2 linked regions of the Homo sapiens genome follow. The protein of the gene in region 2 purifies or fractionates together with the protein of the main gene of each other region. This does not show direct contact. Each region holds a gene or a part of one and is shown on either strand. Other genes may lie near its edges.

Evidence for each region. The genes of interacting proteins can lie anywhere in the genome.
Region 1: the proteins of FAM120A (region 2) and YTHDC1 purify together in Homo sapiens (co-immunoprecipitation; 2 studies listed by BioGRID and IntAct, with this or other methods). This does not show direct contact.

The regions. Positions count from the first base shown.
Region 1 is NC_000004.12:68,333,064-68,340,101, forward strand, and holds part of YTHDC1 (YTH domain-containing protein 1), read right to left. Parts: intron 5,322-7,038; coding exon 5,220-5,321; intron 4,838-5,219; coding exon 4,509-4,837; intron 4,388-4,508; coding exon 3,964-4,387; intron 335-3,963; coding exon 245-334; intron 1-244. UniProt on the Homo sapiens protein: Regulator of alternative splicing that specifically recognizes and binds N6-methyladenosine (m6A)-containing RNAs.
Region 2 is NC_000009.12:93,552,676-93,559,713, reverse strand, and holds part of FAM120A (constitutive coactivator of PPAR-gamma-like protein 1), read right to left. Parts: exon of another isoform or gene 3,356-7,038; intron 3,333-3,355; coding exon 3,123-3,332; intron 1,888-3,122; coding exon 1,704-1,887; intron 1,134-1,703; coding exon 996-1,133; intron 1-995. UniProt on the Homo sapiens protein: Component of the oxidative stress-induced survival signaling. May regulate the activation of SRC family protein kinases. May act as a scaffolding protein enabling SRC family protein kinases to phosphorylate and activate PI3-kinase.

The DNA of each region.
Region 1 (7,038 bases), on a different chromosome or scaffold from region 2:
AGAAAACTAGTCACTGAATCATCATCTTCCAAGAAAAAAAAAGTGAAAATTCCACTTAAGCAGTAACAGAACAGGATTAAAATAATAAGAAAAAGCTTAGTTTTCTCTAGAATTATTACACTGAACATGCCAAAAATCAGTGCTAATGGACATCAACAAGTTCACACTAAACTACAGCCTCCACACGCTTTCTAAAGCAGATTACATTAGAATCAAGTCAGATATGATCACAAAATGAGAATACCTGCATATGACTCTGATGCAGAGCTTCCACTTCTATCAAAAACAATTGGAGATATGCCTCTAGCTCTCTTCCTTTCCTTCTTTTTCTCATCTAAAAAGAACAAGAGTTTTTTTTTTAAATCACAATACAGAAACGAAGAGAAGTAATCAAACAAGAATGTATCATTACATGTCTAGTTTTTGCATAGCCCTTCTATTAGTCTGTGCTCCTCTCTCCTGATCCCTCAATTTCCTCAGAATGTTTTATTTTAAAAATACTGTTTAAAAAGTACGGGCATCTTGTTTCTTTCATCAGTTTCAATCAAATAAAAACACACGAAATAACTACAAAGTCAGGGCCTTAATTGCCATATATAGGTGGCCTTGAATACAGTTTTCCAAGCGGGGGGGGAAATTTGCAAAGCAAAAACAATTTCTTTCAAAACTGTGTCCTTTCTACACACCAGGTAACACTGTCTTAAGTCCTTATTTTTTTAAACTCCACTACCATTCTTCAGCACAATTACAATTCTGATTCTATCTTAAGAGATCTGATGAACCCCTGAACCCAAAGCTTTACAACTGGAAAAATATATATACCATAATTAGTGATTCCCTTCTGGTTGCCATTGCTTGTTTTTGTGTCTTCTATTTCATTCTCCTTAGCCATTTCCTCCCTGGATTACTGCTCTTATTTTCAAATTCAATTTAAAATTTATCCCTACAATTTTAATGGTAGCCTGTGTATTTCTGTAAGAGAGCTGAAAATCTTCAGTAAATAGAAAAGGTTTGGATTACCTGCCATGTAAGAACCAGTCCCAAGCTTAATTTGGAACTTTGTAAGCATATACATGAGGACTTGAAATGGAATTCAGCTCTCCTATCTGTTTATTTTTATCTTAGTTTTACCATGATAAGCTCCTTTTACTTTTCAGCTTAGAGATAAGGGAATAGGAAGAAAAAAATGCATATACTTATTTTTATATAAACAATGGAAAGCTGAAAAATAATAATCAGTGATCATGTATACAATAACCTACTATATAATGACAGCTATTTAAAAAGCTTTAACTACTTATCTCCTTTAATTCTCATAACAAGTTCACAAGATATTCTCATTACAGATGAAGAAACCTTGAATTAGACAGGCAGTTAGGCAACTAGACTAGGGTCCCACAGTTCCTGGATGGCAGAACCTAGACTCAAGGGCAGGTCCTCTGGCTTGAGCAAGTAGAAAGGATGTTTTATACTATTTTTGAAAGGTGATTACAGGTTTAACTAGTTTTGGGGGCTTTTTTCATTATTTCTTTCAAAAGTTCTGACATGTTTCTTCTAATTTTTCCCCCATGGATATTTCTTTCAGTAGTCTAAGCATTATGAATGCATCTGACTGAGTGTAATTTATCTCTTGTTGCTGTTAAAAAAGAATTATTTCATGGTCCAAAGTACTAAAAAGGGCCTGGTGCAGTTGCTCGTGCCTGTAATCCCAGCACTTTGGGAGGTCGAGGCAGGCGGATCACTTGACCTCAGGAGTTCGAGACCAGCCTGGGCAACATAGCAAGACCCTCTTTATATAAAGACAAAAACAATAATTAAAAAGTTACTAAAAAGATCTGAGATAATGCAGGGAAAATAACAGAAGCAGAAGATCCTACTCAATTGTTTTTATATAATGCTAAACCTAGCATTAGCATGAGAAATCTCCAAGGAATTTTCATCATTTTTGTATGAATAACTCCCAATGCTCTTAAGTTTATGGCCCTCTCCCCCAACTATTACTCTCAGGTCAAAAGAACAATGAAAATCATCTAATAAATAAACTGTTATCAATCAGTCTGTTGCTTTTATAAAGTTACCAAAAATTCTGAGAATAAGGTAAAATGAACTGGAATCTAGAAAATTCATGACAGAGAAACTCAACTGTGATCACTTTTATTTAAAAACTGACGTCTCTTAATCAAGAAGTTCCAAAATCACCCCATTACTCTTTCATAAACTATTGTATAAAAAAAAATTTCCTGCATATTAATATAGTACCTAAAGCATGTTCCACATAAGGGATTTTCCTTTATAAGGAAAATAAAACTTTCAGGTATCTCTTTTAGAATAAACCTAGTCTAGTAACAGAGTTTTGATATCAAGATTTATTATAAAACTACAGTTACCATTTAATTTGAAATGTCTTCTCCACAAAAACAAAGTGTGTCAATCAAGTTACCTTACTATGGTATCATCTAGGAGCCTGTTACAAATGCAATTTCTGGTCCTACCCATTTAAGTAAGTTCCCTTTGTTTAATGTAAACAATACAAACATTAAAGTCTAAGAAATAACAGAGATACCAAAAAGAAGATTCCTACAACAAAACGTTCCCTACCCAAGGGAGTGGTTTCATACATTCTCCACAATAAATGAACATTCAACACATACTGCTAATGAAATATTTATTATCTTAAATTATAAAAAATATATCCTATCAGTTTGTAAAAGGCATGATGGAAGCATAAAGATTTCATATGTTTTTACAACAAATCCAACTACTCATCTATTCTGTTTAACTCTACCTCCCTTGAAAAGCCTATCTTAACTCCCAAACCTAGAATTCTAGTGAACAAAAGGTTGAAAGCACTTCAGTTGCCAATCACTAGAAAATAACTGGCCATCTGCTCTACCTATACTGTATGTAGTATAGATATATACTATCCATATAGTATAAATATATAGTATAAAATATATAGTATAGATATATACTATCTGTATATAGTATAGGTAGAGCAGATGGCCAGTTATCTTCTAGTGATTGGCAACTGAAGTACTTTTCTATACTATATATACTATATATATAAAACAATGTACTATTATAAATGATCAAATTCTATAATAAACTGTAAATGTATTTCAAAAAAATAGGAATTTTCTTATGTTTAGTACATTTTGCTTATGTAGCAATCTGGTAGCATCTTTACATAAGACAGTCATGAGATTATAATCATCATATAGTGCTCTGTAAGTACCCTGACCTCTCCTTGCTGTACCCTCCCCCAAGAAAAGTTCCCCTAAGCCTAGTGCCTCCAACTACGTAACAGTCATACATTTTTGTCTCATAGGTATAGAGAGGCAGGATATATATAGCATTGAAGAAATGACTGAAGATGGTTCTTACCTGATTTTTCCACAAGAATTTTATTTATAGTCTTCATCTCCATCTTATACCTTACACCCCAGCCCTCTTGTCGACCCTGTCTCAGCCAGTCAACTGACAGACACAAAATTAGAAGAAAAGTCTGTGCTCCCAGAGATAAAAAAGAAATAATCTGTTTTGATTCTGAAGCCATATGATGGAAATCTAGGGGTATTTTACCAAGGAAATACTGTAATACCCAGTGGACAGGTTTCCTATGAATATACTTCAAGTACATCAGTGTTTAAATAAACTGCTGACTGGTATGAAAATCTAAGAATTTACAGAAATCTGAAATACATTTCCTTATACAGAATCAAATGGACTTGTGTTCATTTACAACACAACCATTCTGTAGCTAGGAAATGCCTTTCCTAAAATATGTAAATCTTATCCAAGATTATTCAAATGTATTTATAACATTCAAAAGCATATAAAGGATCACAAGACAATCCTATTAATATCCCCCATCTCCTCAACAATTTTATAATTTAAACATTTTCAAGACTGAAACCTATCAAGCTTTTTTTAAGACAAACTTTTACATATAAAAAGTAGTACCTGATCCATCTGTGCCTGAACCAGATCTGACAGACCCATCTGTGAAGGAAACAGATTCAGAACCAGAGTCACTGGCCTCACTTCGAGTGTCATAATCATTTCCCTCCTCTTTCTGGTCTCTCTCATCCTGTTCATATTCTTCTTCTTCCTCCTCCTCCTCCTCCTCTTCCTCCTCCTCCTCTTCCTCCTCCTCCTCTCCATCTTCATCCACCTCTTCATCTTCTTCTGCATCTTCTTCTACTTCTTCATCTTCCTCCACATCTTCTTCCACTCCTTCCTCCTCATTCTCAGTGTTGTTCCCTTGCTCATCAGAAGAACCACTGCTGCCAGTCTCATGGTCAGAGCCATATTCTTCAGAGTTCACTTCTTCCTTAGAAGACTGGCTGGATCTGCTTGCACGTCTATCCACTTCAAGCCCAATTCTCTGATGTTTAAAGAAAAAGGGAATCAGCAGTCATATAAAAGACAAGGTCAGGGTGAATAAACAGTTCTAAAGCCTCAAAAAGAATGGCTTTCTGTTTTATATCTGCAATAATATTTACTACCTCAGAACCATCTGGCGTAGGAGATTTGGCCCTCCTTTCAGGATCCCTTTTCCGGACACAGGTTTTTTCAGGTTGATTCTTATAAGGTTCTCTGGAGGCACTACTTGATAGACGAATTTTCCGATCAGCATCTAGACGCTTGTTTCTTTCAGATCTTTGATATTCCTCATTTTTATACTCTGTGGCTGACTTTCCTTTTGTACTAACTATTCTTTTGTTATTGCTAACAGATGAGCTCAGTGGCTTAGAAACCAGTTGTCTAGAATGGACAGAAGGCTTTTGTCGTTTGGTATCAGTAGATTCCATTCGATCACTTTTTCTTTTTGATCCTTTAAAATACAATGTAAAAAAAAAAAAAAGAAGTATTTGTAGTATTCCATTTATTTCACCAAAGACTGACAATAATATATACATCAGGAAGGGGGGATAGGCCTCATTTCTTTAAAAGTCTTCTGAGAGATTTCTTCTCCAGAGTTAATCTAAAAGAAAACATAGCTTTCAACTATGGGAATAAAACCATATATTTGAGAAGTTTCATATATTAGAAAAAAACAGATTATCCCTATTCATATGGATACCAGTTTATTATGTACATTTAGTGTTAACTGCCTCAAGGAACAAGCACAAAAAAGCACAGTCATTTTTTTTAAGAAATTGAATCTCCTCTATTTATACTGTTATTTCAACAAAAATAATAGAACTCTTACATACCCTTTTTCTCATTTTTATCTTGTTCACTCTCTGGATTATACAGTTCATCATCTTGTTCTGGTACTTCAGTTAAAATATCATCCAGAACATTAAGTTCTCCATCTGCAAATAAAATTAAAAATTAATAGGGAAAAATCACTATCATTGAACATGTATTTTTGAGTACTTACTAAGTGTGAGGCCACAAGCGCCTAGGAGCTTTTACTTTTATATAAAAAGCTTTACTTTTATTTCAGAATCAAGACACAAGATTAATTTCTATAAAACTAATACAGGGTAAAGAATTGGCCAGTCGTGGTGGCTCATGCCTGCAATCCCAGCACTTTGGGAGGCTGAGGCAGGCCAATCACGTGACGCCAGGAGTTTGAGACCAGCCTGGCCAACATGGCAAAACCCTGCTCTGCTAAAAATACAAAAATTAGCAGGGCATGGTGGCACATGCCTTTAACCCCAGCTACTCAGAAGGCTCAGGGACAAGAATCACTTGAACCTGGGAAGCAGAGGTTGCAGTAAGCCAAGATTGTGCCACTGCATTCCAGCCTGGGCGATAAGAGTGAGTTTCTCAAAATACACACACACACACAAACAGAAGTCTGGGCTATCTGGTCTACAAAGCCAGGAGTATACATCTCAGAAGGCATGAAAAGATATACTGAGGCATAAAAAGAAAATGCAAGAATGTCTCTATTTTTACCTCATTCTTTAATTTCTAATATTTCTGAGGGCTTTAAAATGTGTACAATAAATTAGTATACAAATACGTATGTACAACTTATAAATACACATTTACCAAAAATGTGCACTCTCCACAATTACAAAGGGAAAACGACTTTACAGTGGAGAAATGTTTCACAGGCCAAATTAACCAGATAATCAAAGTTAACATCACCAGTAATGAGACAAATCAACATCATGGACCTCCTGTAACAATGCTCTGAGAATAGAACAATGCTTTTGTAATGTTCTATGCAAAATGGAAAAGCTGAACCTACATGAGGAAAAAAATCAGACAAACCCAAATTAAAGGGCATCCAAATATGTCACTGTCATGAAACAAAGAGTAAGAACTATTTCATATCAAAGCAGACCTAGAGAGGCATGATAACTGAACACAGCCCACAATATTGGACATAATTGGAAAAACTGGTGAAATCTGAATAAAGTTTGTAAATCAGAGTAAGTAGCAATGTTATTTTTCTAATTTTGACTGTACTATGGTTAAGTCAAAGTCCTTATAACACATATTTAAGTATTTAGGGACAAAGATATATTATGTCTACAACTTACAAATGGTTCAGGAAAAAAGTGTGCACACATGCACGTACACACACAGACACACAGAATGAGACAAATGTGACAAAATGCTAACATCTGCAGAATGTGTTTGGAGAGTAAAAGAAAATTCTTCACACTGCACTTGTAGCTATTATGCTTATCTGAAATTATGTCAAACTGCAAGTTAAATGAAAAAATTATCAATGTGCTATATAATAAAAAAAACATTTAGAGCCTGCTGGTGTGGACTGTAAAAGCACAAAACTTGTTCAGAGAAGGGAACTATGACTTTATTCAATGATCATGAAAGCATAAAACTCAGTTTTGTCCCCACTTCTACCTTGTCCAACAAGATAAACCTTAGAAATACACACAAATACCATTTTAAATTTTAAAATGTACTAATGCTAATAGTAAATGTTTAAACATTAACTATTCCAATATCAAAAACATCTTTCCAAATTTAAGGTGTGCCAAAGAGGAAGTATAAAGCCATGAAAACTGATGAGACAGAACAATTACATTTGTGGCTTCAGGAAAAAAA
Region 2 (7,038 bases):
TAGAAGGAGCTGAAGCAAATCAAGAAGCAGAGAGGAAACATGGCTGCGAGCTGCATGAGGAGCAGTCACAGAGCAGAGTAGCACACTGCAGGAGGCTGGTGGGCAGACAGAGGAGGCAGAGAGGCATGCAGCTGCACCAGGGAAAGGAGAGGTGACCTGCAGACAGAGGGGCTGACCCGTCGCCAAATCTGCAAGTCACCTTTCCGCACAGTTCCCTTGCTGGCCTCCCTAACTATCCCATGTAACTGAGTTGGAAAAACATTGTTGATCAAGAGAGAAAGGCTTGCCCATCCTCAATGCAACTCCAAAATCACATCTGAACAGTTAATCCTGTTATGTGACTTGATGGGCAGATTTAGATCTGCAGTCCCAAAATGTGGGATTAGGACAAAGATACAGGTCACTGACTTCCAATTACAGCACCATCACAAGACATTGCTTCCTATGCTAAATGTTAAGACCCTTTTCTCTTTTGCAAGCCTAATACAAATGCAAAGAGAAGCACTGGGAATCTACAGTAAACTGCCTTGTTTATATGCCCAACATTAGATCTTTGTTTAAAAATGTTTCTGCGAAACAAACTGTGACAGACTTTTTATGTCAGGAATTCTGTGACCATTAGCATTTTCTATACAAGCATGATAATCTTTACCAAAAGATGGCTGCTTGGGAAAGAAACGCCACTATTAGCAGCTCATCCTATGAACACGAGGCGATGGTCAGGTTACCCAGGTGCACAGAAAGGTTCTGTTCTAGGTGGACACTCAGTGGTCTACCCTGAAAGGAGAGACTGGCCACAGCAGAGCCGCTGCTGAGACCTGAGAGCAGAGAGTCTCAGGAGGAGTGGTCAATGAGGGTCAGAGCGGGGACCCAGAAGAAAGGCCGTTCTGCTGGAGGAGGGGCTCATGAGGACAGTAGAGGAAGGAAGGCGCCAGACGATGGAGCGAAGGAAGTGCTGGCAGGCAGAAGCTCTGGGAAGGGGTGGGTATAATTACCGCCCTGGGACTTGCTAGTCCTGCTGCTGTCACTGCCTGAGAAGGCTCCGCAGTGTCCCGATGCTGCCGCCACACGGAAGGCACGGTAAGGGCCTGTTGCTACCGTTTCCCCATAGGGGCCTCCAAAGCCACAGACGCCTGTGGGACCCGGGGTAGAGAGAGAGGGGAGAAGTGTAAGGGACAGGACTCAGGGCCCTGCTGGGTATTCAGGCAGAGTGGCCCCTGCCTCCTCCAGCTGCCATGGAGGGGTCTCCTGGCCCCTCTTGTCACCTCACTGTCCTGTGCCCATGGTCCCTGGGGACCAGTATTGTAAGGCCACCCTCCCTGCAGTGGGTCATTCAACAGGGCACTAGCATGGGGCTCAGGAAGGGCCCTGGGAGATGAGTCCTGGAAGATGGCTCTCTCTGACCTGGGTGGGTTTATTTTCCCTTACACATGAGAAACAAATATATCTTAAAATGTGAGCAGAGTTTTCAGCTTGATTGACAGATTTTACGGTGCAGCTTTTGCATCTGCATCAGCAGGTCCCTCTCCCCTATCTCCAGGATTAAACTTGCTCCTCACGGACTTGAAGAACTGCTGCTGCAGGATCTCCAAGACCAACAGTGACAAGGTCAACACAGCAGATGGGCTTGCCTATAAGGGCTGCACTTTCTTTACAGGAATCTGGCATCTGTTACCCACAGGAATACGTCCCAATCAACTCACCTGCAAAGCCTCTGCCCCTGCCCTGAGAGGGTGGGACAGGCCCAAAGTGCCGGGGGTACGCAGAGGCAGGGTAGAAGGGCAGGGCAGGTGGCGGCGGGAAAGGGAGCGTGTGGCTCTGCCTGGAGAAGCTGAGCCCCTCGAGGACGCTCTGGCGCATCTTCTCTACCTTGGCAGCCTGATCAGCCTGGAAGACAAGGACCAGCATGTGAAAATGCCATCCACAGGGGGTTTTAATTGAATTTAAATGAGCACTAAAGAAATAAGATCTATCAACTATACAGTTGGTTCCCTTTATTCATGAATTCTATGTCTGCAAATTCTCCTACTTGCTAACGTTTATTTGTAACCACAAAAATCAATACTTATGGCAGTTTTCTGGTCGTCTGCAGACTTGTGCAGAACACGGCAAAGATTTTTGTTGCCTGATGCACTGACCCCAGCTGAGGTCAAACAAGACAACGCTTGCCTTCTTGTTTCAGCTCATACTGAAAACAAGAATCCTTTTCACAGTTTATTAAGTGCCACGTGTTTCACATTTTTGTCCTTTTTTGTTGGTAATTTCACTGTTTAAAATGGTCCCTGGCTGGGTGCAACAGCTCACGCCTGTAATCCCAGCACTTTGGGAGGCCAAGGTGGGTGGATTGCTTGAGGTCAGGAGTTCAAGACCAGCCTGACCAACATAGCAAAACACCGTCTCTACTAAAAATACAAAAATTAGCTGGGCATGGTGGCAGGCACCTGTAATTCCAGCTACTAGGGAGGCTAAAGCAGGAGAATCACTTGAACCTGGGAGGTGGAGGTTACAGTGAGCTGAGACCGCACCACTGCACTCCAGCCTGGGCGACAAGAGCGAAACTCCATCTCAAAAAAAAAAAAAAAAAAACCAAAACAAACAAACAAATAAAATGGTCTCCAAGTGTAGTGCTGAAGTGCTGTCTGGTGTTCCTAAATGCATAAGGAGGCTGTGATGTGCCTTACAGAGAATATACGTGTTACAGAAGCTACTGGCTGTGAGTTCAATAATAATGAATCAACAATCCATATTATATAAGGTGTCTTTAACGAAAATGCACATGAAATAAGATTATATACTGATTGGTTAACAAAAATATGTGACCAGAGCCTTGAAGGAACCCAGCACCTTGTATTGCCCCTAGGAGCAATGGTCAGTATTCACTAATTTGGCGTTCAAGGTGAATTTTAGAACATTACTACCACAAATAATGAGAAACAATGTTATATCAGGAGCTTGGCTCATCCTGGGTACTGAAGTGATATTTAGTGACACTCAGTACCAGGCCCAACCTAAAACAGAATCTTGAAACACAGGATGATAAATATGGTATAAAAGATGACAGATTTAACCAGTGAGCTTTATTTCATTGCAGTTAAAGGCAGCCACCCGGCCCCGCAGCATACCTGACCATCACAGAGGTCAATGAGTGGGGTCTTTTCCCGGCTGGCTTTGAGGAGTTTGGATTGGAAGAGCTTCCCATCAAAATACATCCAAGGACAACAGTGTTCCCAGGGGATTGGCTGTCCGCATGCATCATTTGCAAACAAGGCCATGTCTACTCCACTCATGAAGAGAGCTGATAGCTGAATTCCTCGGGGATCTAGGTTCTCAATCTTTAAATTGAAAAGAGTAATTTCTATGGAATAAGAGTACTACAGTATTAAATTCTTTCAAAGTCTTAGTAAAACTCTCCAAAGTTAACAGAATATTCCTCAACAAAACAGCACCACTAAGTAGTCCTACCATTACCTTATATTGACCTAACACTGGCCTCATTTGAACAGAAATACTTATGTGATTTAACACATTTGAATTTAAGAGAATATTTTATAAACATACTCAAGTATTTCAGGTTGGGTTTATAAAGCGTTCCGCAGTGTAGAGTAACACTGTACTTAAGGCTGACGTGTGACAAAATGAGCAATGATGTGTGGTCTCCTTAGAGCCCAGGGCTCCACAATCTCTTCGTAAAATAACACTTCACATTTCAGATCTGCACACAGGTAACGTATTAACAGAAAGAGTGTCAAAACTGAACACTCTATTAAGATTCTGCATTTTTAAATAGTTACATTAAAAGATTATTTGGTATAATTACATTCTAAAATAAATTTATACTTTATGTTCACATTATTTTATATGTCAAGGTTTTTAATTGCAACTTATTAATAAGACTGTCAAAATGTCTTTTGGAGAAATGGATAGCTTATAAATGAAAGAAGACAACAAAAATATGGTTCTTGAACCATACATACTACTAGAATTTGTGCAGACTTTTACTTCCCTCAGTGTTAAGTGCTGGGTGCCTACCTTCTATACGTAGAGCCCACGCTTCTAGTGTCTGATAAGCAGAGTGAGAAACATTAACACGAGTACAGTCAACTCTTGATCATCTGCATGTGAAAGGCCTAGTTTGTGGATTATCCAGGATCAAAGTTTAGCCCTGCTCTGGCTTTTGTCTTCCGACTTTGGTGGCTTTTCAAGAATGCAATGTTTATGGGAGATCAATCTAAGCAATGCCTACATGTGGCAGGTAAAGGGGCTTTTCATTAAAGAGAAAAAGGTCATTCTGGTGCCAAATGCTAATAAACTTACAATCATCTGCTGTTTTTGTTGTTTGTGTTAACAGTTCCTATTATCAACTAACACTGTTTCCCAACCTTTTTTTAAATTTTCACAATACAGTTGACCTTCCAAAACCTGGAGAAGTCTGTTCACCAATTTATAAAAGGTGTTTATACCTCTGGATCCTATTGTACATCACCAGCTCCTCCTTTTCCCATGCAGTTGTTGGGAAGTGAACTAAAAAATGTTCCCTTGGGGGCAGGTAGGGCTGGGGTGATAGAATTAGATGCATTTTTATATTTATGTGCAAAGTGGAGGAAGAGAGGTCATACTAGAACAAAATGGAGAAAATGTACTTGATTCATTTAGACCCCAGCCACCCCCACCTCTGAGCTGCAGAAAGGGAGAATTCTCAAGGCAGAAAGAGGGAGCCAACCCTGTTGGAAAGCAGCCAAGCACAGGTGTGGCCCATGAATGAATAGGACACCCATCTCCTGGCCCCTTGCACTGCAGAAATTATGACCACAAATCCCTTCCAGTCAGGTGGGGCTCCGCTGCTTCTAGCCCAGGGGCCTCCGTGCCCCTCTCTCTGCCCTACACCAGAGAACAGAGAATCCAGGTCAAGGATTAGGGAGAGAAAATGCTGCTCTAAAGTTGTTTGCCTGGCTATCCAAATGTTAAAACACAAAATGCCACCAACACCCTTTGTGTAAGCACATGCAGCACCATCCTAATGGTGTTTCTTTTTTTTTTCTTTGAAACAGAGTCTCGCTCTGTCATCCACGCTGGAGTGCAATGGTGCAATCTTGGCTCACTGCAACCTCTGCCTCCCAGGTTCAAGCAATTCTCCTGCCTCAGACTCCTTAGTAGCTGGGATTACAGACGTGCGCCACCATGCCTGGCTGATTTTTGTACTTTTAGTAGAGTCAGGTTTTCACCATGTTGGCCAGGCTGGTCTCAAACTCGTGGCCTCATGTGATCTGAGAAGATCCTCGGCCTCCCAAAGTGCTGCGATTACAGGCATGAGCCACCGCATCCAGCCCCTGCAGGTGTTTCTTAGGAACGGGCTGGTGCCAATCACATCCAGATTCAAACCTTTAAGACTAATGTAACCAAAACCATTTACCCGGCAAACGGCTATCTGCATTGCCAAACTGAAGAAACAGCAGCAGATGTATACGGCACACAAGCGCCCTAGTTAAAACTATTAATCTCCAAATTTGCTGACAGGAAGAATGCAGCAAGGCTAGTGTGTGTGTGTGTGTGTGTGTGTGTGTGTGTGTGTGTGTGTGTGTGTGTGTGTGTGTGTATCAAATGGCCTTAACATTAAAGGATTATACTTTTAAGAATTTTTTAAATGTTATTTATAGTTTCAAGATAATTAATGGTTCAATTAGCATTAATCTAATAGAGAAAAGTTCTTAGAATAAGAGCTTGCATAAACAATCTGAATAAAATCTTGACTGCAGTGTAAATTTGCTTCCTTTGAAAATTTTTTAAACTTACATTATGTGGTGTTTTTCTTTCCCTAAATGTTATATATAAATAATAACATTTAATATTTATGGGGAACTTAAGAAATATATATCAAGCACTGCTTTTTTCATTATCTCACTGCCATCTCTAAACAACATAGAATGCAGGCACCTCTAAATAGTACTCCCTTGTACAGACGGGTCACAGAGGGTTCAAGGTCACAGAGCTGGTAATTGGGAGAACCCAAATCTGAACCCTTGATTATAAAATAGCTGCAATATTCACATTCTAACTTCATTCTCTTATATCAATTGAGATAAAATATTCAATATCATCCAAAGTTCCTCAACTAGAGAAATACAGACAAAAAATTCTGACTTTATAAGAAATACAAATATGGAAGTTAATCTCTCTGACCGATTAGCTCAAGAACCAAATTCCAGTAAAGTTACTTTGTCCAACATCTGATTACTGGGCAACAGACTCTTACTTCAATTTGTCATATTTACCTATATGCAAAATAATTCTTACACGTATCACAGACATGTTGCATGCCCCTAATACTGTCTTTAAAGCTCTTCATTTTCCATCTTTTATATTCTGCACTTGGCATGTGAAACTGTTAAAAGAATTTAAGGCAATTATAGGAATGTCAAGGCAAGGGAGAAAGAAACTGGACAAATACTATAATGGTACAAAGTTCCTTCTCATCCTTTACCCACCCTCCTCAAAACACAGGGGTCAGTGCTAATTTTACCTTAATTACATTCATGCTGGTAACCTAGGAGAAGGGCTTAAAAAATATAACAGGAAAAATGAGGGTCATCAATCACTGTCACAGGTATTTAAGGAGCCACATGGAACACTCTCAATTATTCATGGACATGGCAGACGAAGAAAGCATGGATGAGATGAAATTCTTAAAAATTCATTGTAACTAATGGTTTCAATGTCTTGTCCCACCAAACCTCCCATCAGAAAAAGCTAACAAGAGTCCTAACTGTCACCACTGGGTTTTTCCTTCCTCTTTTCCTCCTCTGATGGCCAACCACAGAGTGGACGATAAATGGGAGAAGAGAAACAGGGTCTGGGCAATCCACAAACTGGGTAGCAGGCCCAGACACACCAGTTAACAGTCAAGAGTTGACTATATCACAAACTATGAATGGTGTATTACAACAAAGCACTGTTGTTGCTTTTGATATTGCAAAAAATTTTAATGGTTAAATGAAAAGGCAATTTTAGAATTTAATTTTCTATCACTGAATTTTGGAACCC